Linked DNA regions of Homo sapiens: region 2 is linked to region 1. Evidence: fine-mapped expression QTL. A gene starts in region 1. The other region holds a variant in brackets. All regions are shown on one strand. Distances are from middle to middle.

Region 1 (8,141 bases):
CAAGTCTTTTCAAATCCTCTTGGTATGCTTTCAGGGCAGCTGCCTCCATTGCAGCAAACTCCTTTGATGCCTTTTCTTCTTCCTTTGCCTTATCCAGGCTTTTCTGTTTAATCTATGTAAGACATACATAACAGTGAAAGTGAGATAAAGGACTGACATTTGCATAGAAAAATTAGCAAATAAACAATCTAAATTACCTCACTGATCCTTTTTGCCACATTTTCCTTATGATTCTTTCCTCTTTCATGAAATTCAACACTCTTGAAAATGAAAAGAGAAAATAACAAAAGAAAACTACATAAACATCATAAAATTCATAGTAAACATAATTTTCTCATAAACATGAGAAAATTAAAATTAAAATGAATGGCAGAAAAGATGAAAACATTAATTTAATGCAAATTGGCCCTTTTAATCAAATGATGCTAGGGAACTACATTGTTTATTATTATGTCCTCTGACTAGGTTTCCTTTGGTTCTTAAAATAAACCATGATGACCTTATTAATGGAGAAAAATACAAGGTACCCTTGATGACTAATCTAGTGACTATGATTGTAATGAGGACTCAAACGTGACATGAAGCCAAAAGACTGGGGAAAAAAATCTTAAACAACTTTCAACATCAAAAGCCTTTAGAATTTTATTGCTCTATTTGTCACAAGGAGGGACATAGAGAACAATGATTTTATTGCTTTATTCCTTAAATTTAGGAGAAAAGTATGTATTTTAAGATTCCTCGTAAATTATAAGCAAACACTTTTATACAATGTGGTAATGGTTCAAAATGTACAACTTCTATGGAGGATAATTTGGCAATATCTATCAAGACTACAAATACATTTACCCTTTGACACAGCAATTTCATTTCTGGTAATTTATTCTATAGATATACCTGCACATGTACAAAATCATGATATACACAAGCTTACTGACTGCAGCACTGTTTGCAATAACAATACGGTATCCATCTCTAAGGGACTGACTGGTTAAACTATGGTACATTCTCATAGTCTACTGTAACAGAGAGAAAGAAGCTCTTTATGTATGGATACAAAGGGAGCTCCAGTTACATACTGTTAAATTTTTTAAAACTAGTGCAGAATAATATATACAGTACATTACCTTTTATGTATGCTGGAATAAGAACTTGTGTCTACATGCATGTAGAAACAATGGAAGGATAGGCAAGAAAATGAAAAAAAAAAATGATAACCTATGGGGAGTGATGGCCACTAGATGACTGGGGACAGGGGCTGGTGAGTGAGCGCAATTATCTATTTAAACAATCAGAAATGCTCCCTAAATTACAAGTTTCTAGTTAAATGCAGTAAGAAATTCCTCACAAGCTCTGCAAAATAAGTTCTGTCAATCAAATCTTACATGATGCATTAACTGAGCTATTTTAAAATACTACCATGAATTCATCTTTAAAGTGTGACTTTGTAAAGCAGATAATCCTCCTGTTTTTCATACATTGCGTTTCCTAAAGTTGATTACACTACACAAAGAATACAATATTAAAGGACCATTCAAAATTAAATTAATTTTGTTTCTAATTAAAGGTTAAATCAATGTGTATTACCAACTCAAGAAGATAAAGACAGACTACACTGGAAGGGATTACTTACTCTAGATAACTCACAAAATTCATTTTACAGCCTAGGTACCTCCAAGAAAGAGAGACTTTAAGTGACCTGTGTGGTTTTAAAAATTCATGGTATTTATTTATAAGGATAGCCTAGGTAAAATAGTGAAGAACTTTAGCAACTATCCAAAAAGACCAAAACATCAAAAAAAAATCCAAATCCTAAACACCTTGCAGGTAACAGGAAATAAATGTCTACAGAAGAAATCCACAGCATTGTTAAAATATGAGACTACTATTCTTTGTGCATCCAACTTTGCCAAGTAAAAACGGTATCAACATAAAATATATTTAACAGATACCCTAGTGTTTATGTGGTATGTACATAGTATTTTGACATGCAAGAGGGGAGAAAAATCAGCGGTGTGCTTTTTGCTTTACATCTTCAAAACTGGATCTCAACTATGAGACAGACTAACAACATACCTAACAGAGTTGTTACTTTGTTTCATGAGAAAGGAAATAATGGTGTTCTTTCAAATTTAAGCATCTAAAGATACACAGCTCTGCATTAAATACACTTGATTATTTCTAGACCACAAAATATACAAGAAAAACTAAACATGTTGCTTTTATTTTTTAAGGGCTTTCCACAATTCTTTGGGTATGACAGTATTATGAACACCACCATTATAATATAGGTGCTTCATAACATGAATGATATGACCAACTCATTGCCCATTTCCCAAAAGGCCACAGAGAAATAATTTAATATATAATCAAAGTCAGGTTGATGAAAAGGAAGAAGGCTCACAGCTTTCATAGGGGACTGAGAAGACAGAAATCTTCTGATGTTTTGAAAATGCAAGAGCAATGTACATAAAAGTGCTTTGTAAACTGAGTTTACATCAAAAAGGAGCACTTCATTCAACACAATTATTATTAGAATCTCTAACAGCGGAATTATCATACAGGCCTATTGTCTGCTATCCAGCACTTGCAGTAATCACAGAATTTCTTTGGCTGTGACTTCCAGTAGTCCGCCCTGAAAAAGAGAGACAACAAGGCTAAGCTCATGTAAAACTTAAAAAAGGTTAAATTCTGCATGCTTTACAGTTTTTAAAGTTTGAAATATATGCCCCTGCTACTGAATCTTGTCTTGTTATGTATAGTCGTTTTATTATTTATCTGGTTGGAGCACAGTCAATTGAAATTCTGTTGCCAGCGGAGTAGAAAAAGTCTGTATCTGATTCATTACAAAACTCCCTTCAATAAAATGGCTTTCAAAAATTCCTCACTTGTTATCGTCATCGTTATGAAAAACTAAGGAACATCTTAGAAGAACATTTATCCTTTCTGGCTTTGGGGGAGGTTGCTGTAATGGAAACCTGAAGAAACTCATAAAGTTTGCCTTAAATCAAGTTATTCCCACCAAGAGAACAACGTACAAGACTACTCTGGGGAAAACTGTAGTTCCTCCCAGACTCTCAGTTAAAACAAACTGTTCTTGAGCCTCAAGGCAAGAGAGAACTGGAAAAGCCATGGGACTTCGTAGACGGCCGACAAAAAAAAAAAAAAAAAAAAAAAAAAAACCATTACGCTATCCAGGGCTGGCCGCTTCCAGTGGGCGGGGGAGGCCGCAGCCCAGCCCTAGTTTCACAATACCCTAGGGTTCAGGGGCTTCGGAAACCCAAGGGGTGCATGCGACCCCCGACAGCGTCGTAGAGAGAGCACTGCGTCGCTTCACCCGCGGCCGTCCAACCAGCCCCCTGAACCGGCCGCCGGCCTCCCCCTAGAGCCCGTGCCCCATACCCCAGGGCGTTCAGCGGGGTAACATTTCTACCCCGCCCTGAGAACCGGCCCTGCAGGTCTGGGGCCGGTCCCGAGCGAGTTAAGAACGCGTCTGTCACGCCCCCGGCCGAAGGGCGGGAGGAGAGGAGGGGAAGACCCGGGCGAGAAAGGGCGGCCCAGAGAAACAACACCTCGTTGTTCAGGGCCTGAGACCCAACTCACATGACTGCGCCAGCCGCTCTGCAAGTCGTCCAGGGTTCCACTCAGACTCGCGCTTTCCCAGCGGGACGAGTCGAGCTCTTCCAGCCGCCCGATGCCCACCCGAACCTCCCTCCGATCCAGACACCTTACTCAGTCCCCGGGACCAGCGTTCCGCTGTTCCCAACTACGGGTGCCCAGACGATCCAATCCGCGTTCGAAATCGCCTCCTCTCCCCTCCCCCTACAGGGGCGGTACTCCCGGCTCCAAAGAGGTGGGGTCGGTATAAAGGGGTTGAGGTCACCGGGAAGGGGTAAAAGCGCGACGGGACCTGAGCTGAAGGACGGGATCTCAAGCCTCAAGTCCCTGCGCCATCCCGCCGTCTCTGTGTCCTCCCCTGGGGCCCAAAACCTCCATCCTCCTTCTAGGCTCGCTGGCTCAAGGCCAAGGAGCTCAGCGCGCCGCCTCCGCCCGGAACGCAAACAGCTGTTCCCAGAGACGTCTCCGCTCTCAACTTTGCCAACTACTCCGCACGCACTTTGACCAGCGGAGCAACCGGGACCTGTGGGTCGGGGTCCTCTGGCGGAGTTAAAAAAAAAAGAGGTGAAACTGCGGGACCGGCGCTGCGAGTCGCTAGGCTTCGCCTCAAACTTTGCTGTTGCAGCGGAGCGGCCCCGCCCCTCCTCTCCCCTACGACGCCCACGCGCTCGGATGGGGCTTGTTCCCTAGCTCGGGAGCGTGTGGGCAGCAGCAGCGGCGGCGGCGGCGGCGGCGGCGGCGGCGGCAGCAGCAGCTTCAGTAGCGCAGAGGCGGCGGTGGCGAGAGGTGCGGCGAAGGAGGCAGAGGCACTTATGCTTGTCAGGTGGGTCACGGCAGTTTCTCATAGCACTTCCCATATGGTCTAGCGGTTAGGATTCCTGGTTTTCACCCAGGTGGCCCGGGTTCGACTCCCGGTATGGGAACGCTTCCTTATTTTTCTTTTTTTTTGCAACTATCGGTTTGGAGGGCTGACTTTTTAAATCTTGTGTTCTGGCTCCTTTCTTGTCCCCGTCTGGGTGAGTTTGTAGAAAATAAGCATTACTGTAGTTAGTGGCGCCAGGAGCTGGGCTGCGGCTTTTGGAGCCTCGAGTGCCACGCCGTGCCTGCTGGAGAAGCGAATGCGCTTCCGATCCTTCTCCCTCCCGCCTCCGGCTCACGGGGCTGGTGGGCCCTGAGGGAGTTTCACTTTCCCCTGGGCTGCTCCCCCGCCCCTCCGGCCCGTAGTTTTCCAGACGCCCGGGAGGTGATGATTAACTCCGGCCTTGCGTTATCTCCTCCCAGCGCCCCCGTCCGGCCCACACCCTCTTCAGCCGCTCTTGCGACTCTTCCTATGCAGGACGGGCTGACCCCCCTGCCCTGGGCGCCCCAGAGCCCGCGCCCGGACCAGTAGCTCTAGTGGTTCTCTGGCCGCAGGGTATTTACGAGGCCCCACGGAACACAGTGTGCCTTCCGCGCCCTCCCGGGGGGACGCGCTTTCCCGGCCGCGCAGCCGCCCGGCGCCCCTTTCCGCCGCGTGTGCGCTCGCGTCTCCACCCGCGGCGCCTGAGCAAGCGCGAGGCCGGCCTGCGAGGTCTTCCCAACTTGACTTAAGGGGCGCTGGTCGCAGTCACGGAAAGTACCCTCGAAAAAAGGCCTTTGGGAACGAGAATCTTTTTTCTTTCCCTTTAAAAATACACACCACGAGCTATGGAGGAGAAAAATACCACTCTGATGAGATGGCTTTAAATAAGTATATCGACTTTCCAAAGGGTCTAACATTTTGAGCGCGGTTGATTTAAAGAAAAAAATTGATTAAAACAACGGCAAAACATCCTGGGGTGGAGGTGGGGCTTGGGAAAGAGAAAATTGGCTGGAGACTGGGGAGGGGACGTTAAAACAAAGTTTCACTGTATTTTTAAATATAGAAGCCCTGTGTTTATTACAAAGAAGGGACAGCTGTGTCAGCAGCATGTGAGCTGTAAATGAAACAAAAGCGTTATCTTAAATGCAAGCTGAAATTAGAAAATAGGGTCGGCTATAATGTTTATTGGGCCTCTGGGAACAAACGAAGAAGGAAAAAGTGACTCTTGTAGATGGGTTTCTGGTCAGTGCCATTACTGAAAGCAGATGTTTTGGTTGTTAGTATGTGTGTTCCCAGACTATTTTGTAGCTTTAACTGCACAGTAAATTTGTTAATGTGATCTGCGTGATTAAGGATTAATTAGGCTTACCTTGTTAAAAAGAAAGAAAAAGCCTAAGTATTTTAAATCGTCTTCATTAATTCAAATATTTGTGTGTTTGCTACACACCAAGCACCACCACATGCTTTTGAAGTTACTGATGTTTGTATTCTTTATGTTAGCTAGTGGATAGAATACTGAATGGAATAATATTTTGGTCTTTGTGATTAGCTGTGTGATGAGACTTTTCACCTTCTCTGTTCTCTGGCTTTAGAGCCATACATTTTTGATAACACGTATCACTCACAAATTTTAAATAGAGTTACAAGAATTGTTGAGCGATTCCTGAATAGATAATGAAAGTGGAATTTTCATTTAAATAAGTAATAGTGTGTCATTATTAAGAAGCAGTTACTAAAGAATTACAGTAGTTGAAAATTTGGAAAGAAGGAAAGATAACTCGGATAACTCTGCCTTAATTGTCCCCAGAGAGGGCTTAACTTTTGACTTTTTCTTCTTTTTTTTGTTGAGACGGAGTCTCGCTCTGTTAACCCAGGCTGGAGGGCATTGGCGCGATCTCAGCTCACTGCAACCTCCGCCTCCCGGATTCAAGCTATTCTCGTGCCTCAGCCTCCCAAGTAGCTGGGACTACAGACACCCGCCACCACGCGTGGCCAATTTTTGTATTTTGAGTAAAGACAATGTTTCACCATGTTGGCCAGGCTGGTCTCGAACCCCTGACCTCAGGTGATCCACCCACCTCGGCCTCCCAAAGTGCTAGGATTACAGGCATGAGCCACCACGCCAGGCCTTGACCTTGTATTTTGTAATGAGTTTACAACATTGTACCAAATGGTGCTAAAATGGATGTTATTTTCAACTGTGCACTCAGTAATTGCAAATAGTTGTACTATATACCTGGGGGTGAACACAAAGGAAGTAGTTGCATCATCTCTGTATAAAACACAGATTTATCTTTCGTGTAGTTGTGCATTACGTAGAATATGGTAAGGCAACATCTGAGTTGTAGAAGTGCTACTGGAGTAACAGAGGTGAGGAATCGGTTCTGCTCAAGGGAGAGGACTGGAGAAGAGACCTAGAGGGGAGAGTGGACCTTGAAGAACTGATTGGATTTCTCCTGTTGGGGAATGTGAATCATAAAGCTGAGGTAGGGGGAACAAGTATGAGGCTGGCAAGTAGTCGGTTTGGCAGGAGCACAGAGTGCCTGCAGGGAGGGCCATGGGAGATCAAGCTGGGAATGTAGAAAGGAATTTTAACTTGATAAATTTTGACTAGGTAACAGGTTCTTTTATCAAGGAGTGACATTTTATGTCACAAAAATTTTTAAACCATTTCTGTCTCTTGGAAAACCCAAAGGTAGCAGTGGCATGTGAAAAATTCTTGTTTTAAAAGATTCAAACAATAAAGAAACATGTAGAATATTTTGTGTCCGTACATTTTATGTTTAGGAGTTGAATATTAATTTGTAATTAATAGAATGGAGAAAAGCAATCAGTTAATTAGAATTCACTTTATAGGAATGAAATCTAGGCTTAAAGTGTGAGAATAATCTGTCTTGCTTTGTTGAAAGTGACCTTGGTATTCGAAGACAGAGCTGCTCACTACTGTCAGTAAGACGTATATCTTAAATTGATTAAGGCTAGGTAATCAGTTTGTGAGGATTCATTCTTAACGCTTGTGCCATTGGCAGGCATATTTTAGGTGCTGTCTCTTGGGCCATAAATTAGTGACACTGAGTGCTGTGGATTTACCCAAATAACCTCTTTAATATTTGCTACTGTTAGGTGTAATTAGAAGATACATGAAAGAGGCAGGGTGTGGTGGCTTATGCTTGTAATCCTAGCACTTTGGGAGGCTGAGGCAGGTGGATCAACATGGCGAAATCCCATCTCTACCAAAAATACAAAAAATTAGCCAGGCGTGGTGGCACCCGCTGCACCTGTATCAGCTATTCAGGAGGCCAAGGTGGGAGGATCACTTGAGCCCTGGAGGCAGAGATTGCAGTAAGCCAGGATCTCAGGATCGTGCCACTGCACTCCAGCCTTGGAGACAGAGAGAGACTCCATCTCGGGGTGGGGGGAAAAAAAAGAGAAAAAGTGAGAGAGCCTGGACAACATAACAAGAGCCTGTCTCTACAAAAATAAAATTAAAAAAAAATTAGCCAGGTGTGATGCCACATGCCTGTAGTCCTAGCTACTTGCAAGCCTAAGGTGGGAGGATCCATTGAGCCCAGGAGTTCAAGGCTGCAGTGAGCTGTGATGTTGCCGCTACACTCCAGGTGACAGAGCAAGACCCTAAGACCTTATCTCTTAAAAAAAAAAAAAAAAAAGACGTGAAAGTTCAGTA
Region 2 (8,150 bases), 170 kb after region 1:
TAAATGTGCAAAGAGCTCAGTAAGAGTATGTTGGGAAGGTTGCATTCTGAAGATCAGGGAAGCAATTATTTAATGAGTATAGTCTTGAAGTATATGGTTCTCAAAAGTTTGCCAATAAATTGCCCCAGCTCTTTAGTCTCTGGGAAAGATCCCTTCATGTTAACCTGTGGTGGTAAGTGGGATCTTACTTACCACTTAAGATGGTGGTGTCTGGATATCATGATTGCTTAAGAGTAATGATATCTCTTTAATTTTGAAGTTTCTTTCATTGGAAAAAAGTAAACTCTGTGCTATGCAGAGGAGACTTTAGAGGTGGATGGTAATACATATAATGTTGAGAACTAATGATCCAGCACAGTAGGGATTCTTATTGACAACCTGTGAATACTCTTTTGGGATATTAACACCTTGAGATCCTTCCTGGTACATGTGAGAACAACATTCAAGCAAACTGTCAAAGTTTTAAGTTAACTTTTAAAGTATTTTTGACTTAAATGAAAATAGAATGGTTTCTTAATGGTTGCAATAAACACCTCTGAAATTGGACTAGTGCTAATTCTAGAACTATCTGCCAGAATCAAGACTTAAGACTTCATTTTTAAAAACATTGAAACATTTGAAAGTACAAGCATTGAAAGTGAATTAAGTGTAAAAGGGAATTCATAGAAAATTAGCCCCTACCTTCTTTTCCCTTTTTTTTTTTTTTTTTGCTGGGGGAGACAGGGTCTCACTCTGTTGCCTATGCTGGAATGCAGTGGCACTATCATGGCTCACTGCCGTCTCAACTACCTGAGCTCAAGTGATCCTTCCTCTTCAGCCTCCCAAAGTGCCAGGATTACAGGTGTGAGCCACTGCACCCAACCCCCTTTACCTTTTTTTTAAAAAGCTGCTTTAAGTGGTTTATTATATGCAGCTATTTTGGTGAATGATTAAGTATAATTTCAGAAGCGGAGGTCAGCTTGTCTCAGCTGAAACAGGTTGTTACTAAGAGCTTTGCCTTTGGCTTTATAAAGGCCTCTTTGTTCATGCTGCACAATTACATAGGTCATGATGGCTTTCAGTAGATATGAATGCTAGTCTGTGTTGCTTTTCAGGTGAAACAAGGAACTTTTTATAGACAATGTGTAAATAGTTACAGGAACATGAAGTGTGAATATAGGGTGCCTTGTGGCCAGGTTTAGTGTGGTGATAAACACAGTACTTTTCAGGCCCTCATTTTTCAGATGAGTTGAAAATTAAAGGAGCAAGATGTAATTTTAATCTTTCAGATAATATTAACAGTTCTTTTCAGTAACTGTTGCTGTGTCATTGCCAGCTATTGGATTTCTGTCTCCTTTTGATAAATATACCAGAAGTGACACCTTAAAGTAACCAGAGTACTATCACTTAATACCGTGTATGAGAAAATATTGGTGGTATATTATTTTATAAAAAAATAGCTGGGCACAGTGGCTCATGCCTGTAATTCTAGCTACTCAGGAGGCTGGCAGGAGAATCACTTGAACCCGGAGGGCAGAGGTTGAAGTGAGCCGAGTTCACACCACTGCACTCCAGCCTGGGTGACAGAAACTCTGTCTCAAAAAAAAAAAAAAAAGAAATCATAGTTTACTTTAGGGAATTCTAGAGATTCTTATGAAATATTTGTTTTTATGTATGTAGAGTTTAAACATGTAAATTACATTAAAGATAGTATACTCCACCCTTATCCCAGTGAAATGATTTCATATTTTTCTTATTATGGAAACAATTATTACATTTCTTTGCTCCTAAAGAAAATAAACACTTGAGACCACATACCCCACATACATATACCATCACTTGATGTCTGATTAAAAATGTTGGCAGTTTTCCCTATGTTACCACTTTGTTAGAGTATTTTAAGGTGCAAATTTTGAAGGTTTTTTGCTAAAGGCAGATGGTATAATCATCTGATAAAAAGAAGTCAAAGAACCTAGGGGTGAATGGGCTTCTCTTTTTGTTAAGTCTGCCTTTTGATTTTTAAATTCTTTTTGCAAAACTAACGATCCTTTTCATAGAAAAAATTAGAATATAACATTCTAATTCAATTCTTCATTTAAACTGTTTTATATAATGTTATGGTGCTTACTTTAATATTTGCATTAAAAATGCTGATTTTAGCCACTTAAAAATAGAGGTGAGAGCATTATTTGAATAAAGAAAACAAAAAGTAGATATAAATGCTATGTGATTGTGTGTTTAAGGGTAAGGATAGACTCAGGGGACTAACCTTGATTAGAGAGTAAAAGATGCTATTAGGATACTATTAATTTTTAATTTTAATAAGTGAACTTACTCCAGCATTCAGAAGTTGTTAACTTCTGCTTCTTTTTGTGTGTGTGTGTGTGTGTGTGTGTGTGTGTGTGTGTGTGTGTGTGTATGAGACAAGAGTTTTGCTCTTTTTGCCCAGGCTGGAGTGCAATGGCACGATCTCGGCTCACTGGAACCTCTGCCTCCCGGGTTCAAGTGATTCTCCTGCCTCAGCCTCCCAAGTAGCTGGGATTACAGGTGTTTGCCACCATGCCTGGCTAATTTTTTGTATTTTTAGTACAGACGGGAATTCACCATGTTGGCCAGGATGGTCTTGATCTCTTGACCTCATGATCCACCTACCTCGGCCTCCCAAAGTGCTGGGATTACAGGCATGAGCCACTGTGCCCGGCCTTTTTTTTTTTTTTTTTTTTTTTTTTTTTGAGATGGTGTTTTGCTCTTGTTGCCCCAGTCTGGAGTGCAATGGCACGATCTTGGCTCACCACAACTTCTGCCTCCCAGGTTCAAGCGATTCTCCTGCCTCAGCCTCCTGAGTATCTGGGATTACAGGCATGCACCACCACACCCAGCTAATTTTGTATTTTTAGTAGAGACAGGGTTTCTCCATGTTGGTCAGGCTGGTCTCGAATTCCCTACCTCAGGTGATCAGCCTGCCTCAGCCTCCCAAAGTGTTGGGATTACAGGCATAAGCCACCATGCACAGCTCTGCTTCTTTTTTATCTGTATTTTTCACTGCTCTGATTTTTTTTCAAGTCAAGTCCTGGACTTGAGGCAAATTGGGCTTCTCCATACCCCTCTATGCAGTGTCTTTTCACACCCCAGTGCTCCAGTTAGGCCACTCCCTGTGCCTCTGGAGACCCACCCCTTCACTCTTGCGAATGCTTCTACCGTCCAAAGCCCTTAGGGGTGTATAAAGCCTTTCCTCTTCACAGTCAGGTGTGGTCTCTCCTGAGCTTTTAGCACATTTATTTATTTAGAACTTTAGTAACTTTCTTAAAGTATCTCACATACTTCCAAGTGGTCGAGGATGTGTCTTTAATATTTTAAAAATCCAGCTGGGTGTGGTGGCTCATGCCTGTAATCCTAGCACTTTGGGTGGCTGAGGTAGGAGAATGGCTTGAGGCCAGGAGTTTCAGACCAGCCTGGGCAACATAGTGAGACCCTGTCTCTACAAAAAAACAGAAAAATTAGCTGAGAGTGGTGGCACATGTCTATAGTTCCAGCTACTAGGGAAGCTGAGACCGGAGGATCACTTGAGCCTAGAAGTTCAAGGCTGCAGTGAACTATGATCCTTCCACTGCACTCCAGCCTGGGAGACAGAGCAAGCCCCTTTTCTCTACAAATAAAATAAAAATCCCCCACAGTCTTGAGGACTATACTATCTTATAATAGGTGTTTAGTAATTATTTGTTGAATGAATGAATACAAAAATGTTAGCATTCATTGTATTATGTTTATACAGTGAAATGTTTCTCCACTGTAAAACAGATGAATGCACATATAAACGCAGTAATTATTTTAGAATCGGATTTCTTTTATTATTATACTTTAAGTTCTAGGGTACATGTGCACAATATGCAGGTTTGTTACATATGTATACACGTGCCATGTTGGTGTGCTGCACCCATTAACTC[G/C]TCATTTACATTAGGTATATCTCCTAATGGTATCCCTCCCCACTCCCCCCACCCCACGACAGGCCCCGGTGTGTGGTGTTCCCCACCCTGTATCCAAGTGTTCTTATTGTTCAATTCCCACCTATTATTGAGAGCATGCAGTGTTTGGTTTTTTGTCCTTGCGATAGTTTGCTGAGAATGATGGTTTCCAGCTTCATCCATGTCCCTACAAAGGACATGAACTCATCCTTTTTTATGGCTGCATAGTATTCCATGGTGTATATGTGCCACGTTTTCTTAATCCAATCTATCATTGATGGACATTTGGGTTGGTTCCAAGTCTTTGCTATTGTGAATAGTGCTGCAATAAACATACATGTGCATGTGTCTTTATAGCAGCATGATTTATACTCCTTTGGGTATATGCCCACTAATGGGATGGCTGGGTCAAATGGTATTTCTAGTTCTAGATCCTTGAGGAATCGCCACACTGTCTTCCACAATGGCTGAACTAGTTTACAGTCCCACCAACAGTGTAAAAGTGTTCCTATTTCTCCACATCCTCTCCAGCACCTGTTGTTTCCTGACTTTTTAATGATCGCCATTCTAACTGGTATGAGATGGTATCTCATTGTGGTTTTGATTTGCATTTCTCTGATGACCAGTGATGATGAGCATTTTTTCAAGTGTCTGTTGGCTGCATAAATGTCTTCTTTTGAGAAGTGTCTGTTCATATCCTTTGCCCACTTTTTGATGGGGTTGTTTGATTTTTTCTTGTAAATTTGTTTAAGTTCTTAATAAATTCTAGATGTCAGCCCTTTGTGAGATGGATAGATTGCAAAAATTTTCTCCCATTCTGTAGGTTGCCTGTTCACTCTGATGGTAATTTCTTTTGCTGTGCAGAAGCTCTTTAGTTTAATTAGATCCCATTTGTCAATTTTGGCTTTTGTTGCCATTGCTTTTGGTGTTTTAGACATGAAGTCCTTGCCCATGCCTATGTCCTGAATGGTATTGCCTAGGTTTTCTTCTAGGGTTTTTATGGTTTCAGATCTGACATTTAAGTCTTTAATCCATCTTGAATTAAATTTTGTATAAGGTGTAAGGAAGGGATCCAGTTTCAGCTTTCTACATATGGCCAGTTTTCCCAGCACCATTTATTAAATAGGGAATCCTTTCCCCATTTCTTGTTTTTCTCAGGTTTGTCAAAGATCAGATGGTTGTAGATGTGTGGTATTATTTCTGAGGGCTCTGTTCTGTTCCATTGGTCTATATCTCTGTTTTGGTACCAGTACCATACTGTTTTGGTTACCGTACCCTTGTAGTATAGTTTGAAGTCAAGTAGCATGATGCCTCCAGCTTTGTTCTTTTGGCTTAGGATTGACTTGGTGATGTGGGCTCTTTTTTGGTTCCATATGAACTTGAAAGTCGTTTTTTCCAATTCTGTGAAGAAAGTCATTGGTAGCTTGATGGGGATGGCATTGAATCTATAAATTACCTTGGGCAGTATGGCCATTTTCATGATACTGATTCTTCCTACCCATGAGCATGGAATGTTCTTCCATTTGTTTGTGTCCTCTTTTATTTCGTTGAGCAGTGGTTTGTAATTCTCCTTGAACAAGTCCTTCACATCCCTTGTAAGTTGGATTCCTAGGTATTTTATTCTCTTTGAAGCAATTGTGAATGGGAGTTCACTCATGATTTGGCTCTCTGTTTGTCTGTTATTGTTGTATGGGAATGCTTGTGATTTTTGCACATTGATTTTGTATCCTGAGACTTTGCTGAAGTTGCTTATCAGCTTAAGGAGATTTTGGGCTGAGACAATGGGGTTTTCTAAATATACAATCATGTCATCTGCAAACAGGGCCAATTTGACTTCCTCTTTTCCTAATTGAATACCCTTTATTTCTTTCTCCTGCCTGATTGCCCTGGCCAGAACTTCCAACACTATGTGGAATAGGAGTGGTGAGAGAGGGCATCCCTGTCTTGTGCCAGTTTTCAAAGGGAATGCTTCCAGTTTTTGCCCATTCAGTATGATATTGGCTGTGGGTTTGTCATAAATAGCTCTTATTATTTTGAGATACATCCCATCAATACCTAATTTATTGAGAGTTGTTAGCATGAAGTGTTGTTGAATTTTGTCAAAGGCCTTTTCTGCATCTATTGAGATAATCATGTGGTTTTTGTCTTTGGATCTGTTTATATGCTGGATTACATTTATTGATTTGCATATGTTCAACCAGCCTTGCATTCCTGGGATGAAGCCCACTTGATCATGGTGGATAAGCTTTTTGATGTGCTGCTGGATTCGGTTTGTCAGTATTTTATTGAGGATTTTTGTGTTGATGTTCATCAGGGATATTGGTCTAAAATTCTTTTTTTTTGTTGTGTCTCTGCCAGGCTTTGGTATCAGGATGATGCTGGCCTCATAAAATGAGTTAGGGAGGACTCCCTCTTTTTCTATTGATTGGAATAGTTTCAGAAGGAATGGTACCAGCTCCTCTTTGTACCTCTGGTAGAATTCAGCTGTGAATCCGTCTGGTCCTGGACTTTTTTTGGTTGGTAGGGTATTAATTATTGCCTCAATTTTAAAGCCTGTTATTGGTGTATTCAGGGATTCAACTTCTTCCTGGTTTAGTCTTGGGAGGGTGTATGTGTCCAGGAATTTATCAATTTCTTCTAGATTTTCTAGTTCATTTGCATAGAGTTGTGTAGAGTATTCTCTGATGGTAGTTTGTATTTCTGTGGGATCGGTTGTGATATCCCCTTTATCATTTTTTATTGCATCTATTTGATTCTACTCTCTTGTCTTCTTTGTTAATCTTGCTAGCAGTCTATCAATTTTGTTGATCTTTTCAAAAAACCAGCTTCTGGATTCATTGATTTTTTGAAGGGTTTTTTGTGTCTCTGTCTCCTTCACTTCAGTTATTTCTTGGCTTCTGCTAGCTTTTGAAGTGTTTGCTCTTGCTTCTCTAGTTCTTTTAATTGTGATGTTATGGTGTCAATTTTAGATCTTTCCTGCTTGCTCTTGTGGGCATTTAGTACTATAAATTTCTGTCTACACACTGCTTTAAATGTGTCCCAGAGATTCTGGTATGTTGTGTCTTTGTTCTCATTGATTTAAAAGAACGTCTTTATTTCTGCCTTTATTTCGTTATGTACCCAAGTAGTCATTCAGGAGCAGGTTGTTCAGTTTCCATGTAGTTGAGCAGTTTTGAGTGAGTTTCTTAATCCTGAGTTCTGGTTTGATTGCACTGTGGTCTGAGACACAGTTTGTTATAATTTCTGTTCTTTTACATTTGCTGAGGAGTGCTTTACTTCCAACTATGTAGTCAATTTTGGAATAAGTGTGGTGTGGTGCTGAGAAGAATGTATATTCTGTTGATTTGGGGTGGAGAGTTCTGTAGATGTCTATTAGGTCCACTTGGTGCGGAGCTGAGTTCAATTCCTGGATATCCTTGTTAACTTTCTGTCTTGTGGATCTGTCTAATATTGACAGTGGCATGTTAAAGTCTCCCATTATTATTGTGTGGGAGTCTAAGTCTCTTTGTAGGTCTCTAAGGACTTGCTTATGAATCTGGGTGCTCCTGTTTTGGGTTTATATATATTTAGGATAGTTAACTTTTCTTGTTGAATTGATCCCTTTACCATTATGTAATGGCCTTCTTTGTCTCTTCTGATCTTTGTTGGTTTAAAGTCTGTTTTATCAGAGACTAGGATTGCAACCCCTGCTTTTTTTGTTTTCCATTTGCTTGGTAGATCTTCCTCCATCCATTTATTTTGAGCCTATGTGTGTCTCTGCACGTGAGATGGGTTTCCTGAATACAGCACACTGATGGGTCTTGACTCTATCCAATTTGCCAGTTTGTGTCTTTTAATTGGAGCATTTAGTCCATTTACATTTAAGGTTAATATTGTTATGTGTGAATTTGATCCTGTCATTATGATGTTAGCTGGTTATTTTGCTTGTTAGTTGATGCAGTTTCTTCCTAGCCTCTATGGTCTTTACAATTTGGTATGTTTTTGCAGTGGCTGGTACCAGTTGTTCCTTTCCATGTTTAGTGCTTCCTTCAGGAGCTCTTGTAAGGCAGACCTGGTGGTGACAAAATCTCTCAGCATTCACTTGTCTGTAAAGAATTTTATTTCTCCTTCACTTATGAAGCTTAATTTGGCTGGATATGAAATTCTGGGTTGAAAATTCTTTTCTTTAAGAATGTTGAATATTGGCCCCCACTCTCTTCTGGCTTGTAG

Alleles and levels. Positions count from the first base shown, and alleles are read on the strand shown. Sizes are in standard deviations (SD) of each study's normalised expression.
As copies of G replace C in region 2, the expression in whole blood of the gene that starts at base 3,767 in region 1 goes down (large effect, 0.77 SD a copy in Lepik 2017).

The links. PIP is the estimated chance that this variant, and not a neighbour inherited with it, causes the effect.
Region 2: its variant is fine-mapped to the expression of WBP4 in whole blood (TOPMed, PIP above 0.99).

What each region holds. Positions count from the first base shown.
Region 1 is chr13:41,057,135-41,065,275 of GRCh38, reverse strand. It overlaps WBP4 (WW domain binding protein 4), which reads right to left and starts at 3,767. Exons shown (of 10, transcript NM_007187.5): 1 at 3,601-3,767; 2 at 2,560-2,632; 3 at 198-260; 4 at 1-112. The coding sequence starts at 3,602. It overlaps TRE-TTC1-2 (tRNA-Glu (anticodon TTC) 1-2), which reads left to right and starts at 4,467; the gene lies at 4,467-4,538. It also overlaps a transcript of ELF1 not described here. RefSeq lists a silencer at 4,973-5,152.
Region 2 is chr13:40,888,769-40,896,918 of GRCh38, reverse strand. It overlaps the pseudogene TPTE2P5. Among named protein-coding and RNA genes, the nearest start is that of MIR621, 82 kb to the right of the region's middle. The variant G/C (reference allele first, on the strand shown) is at 3,924.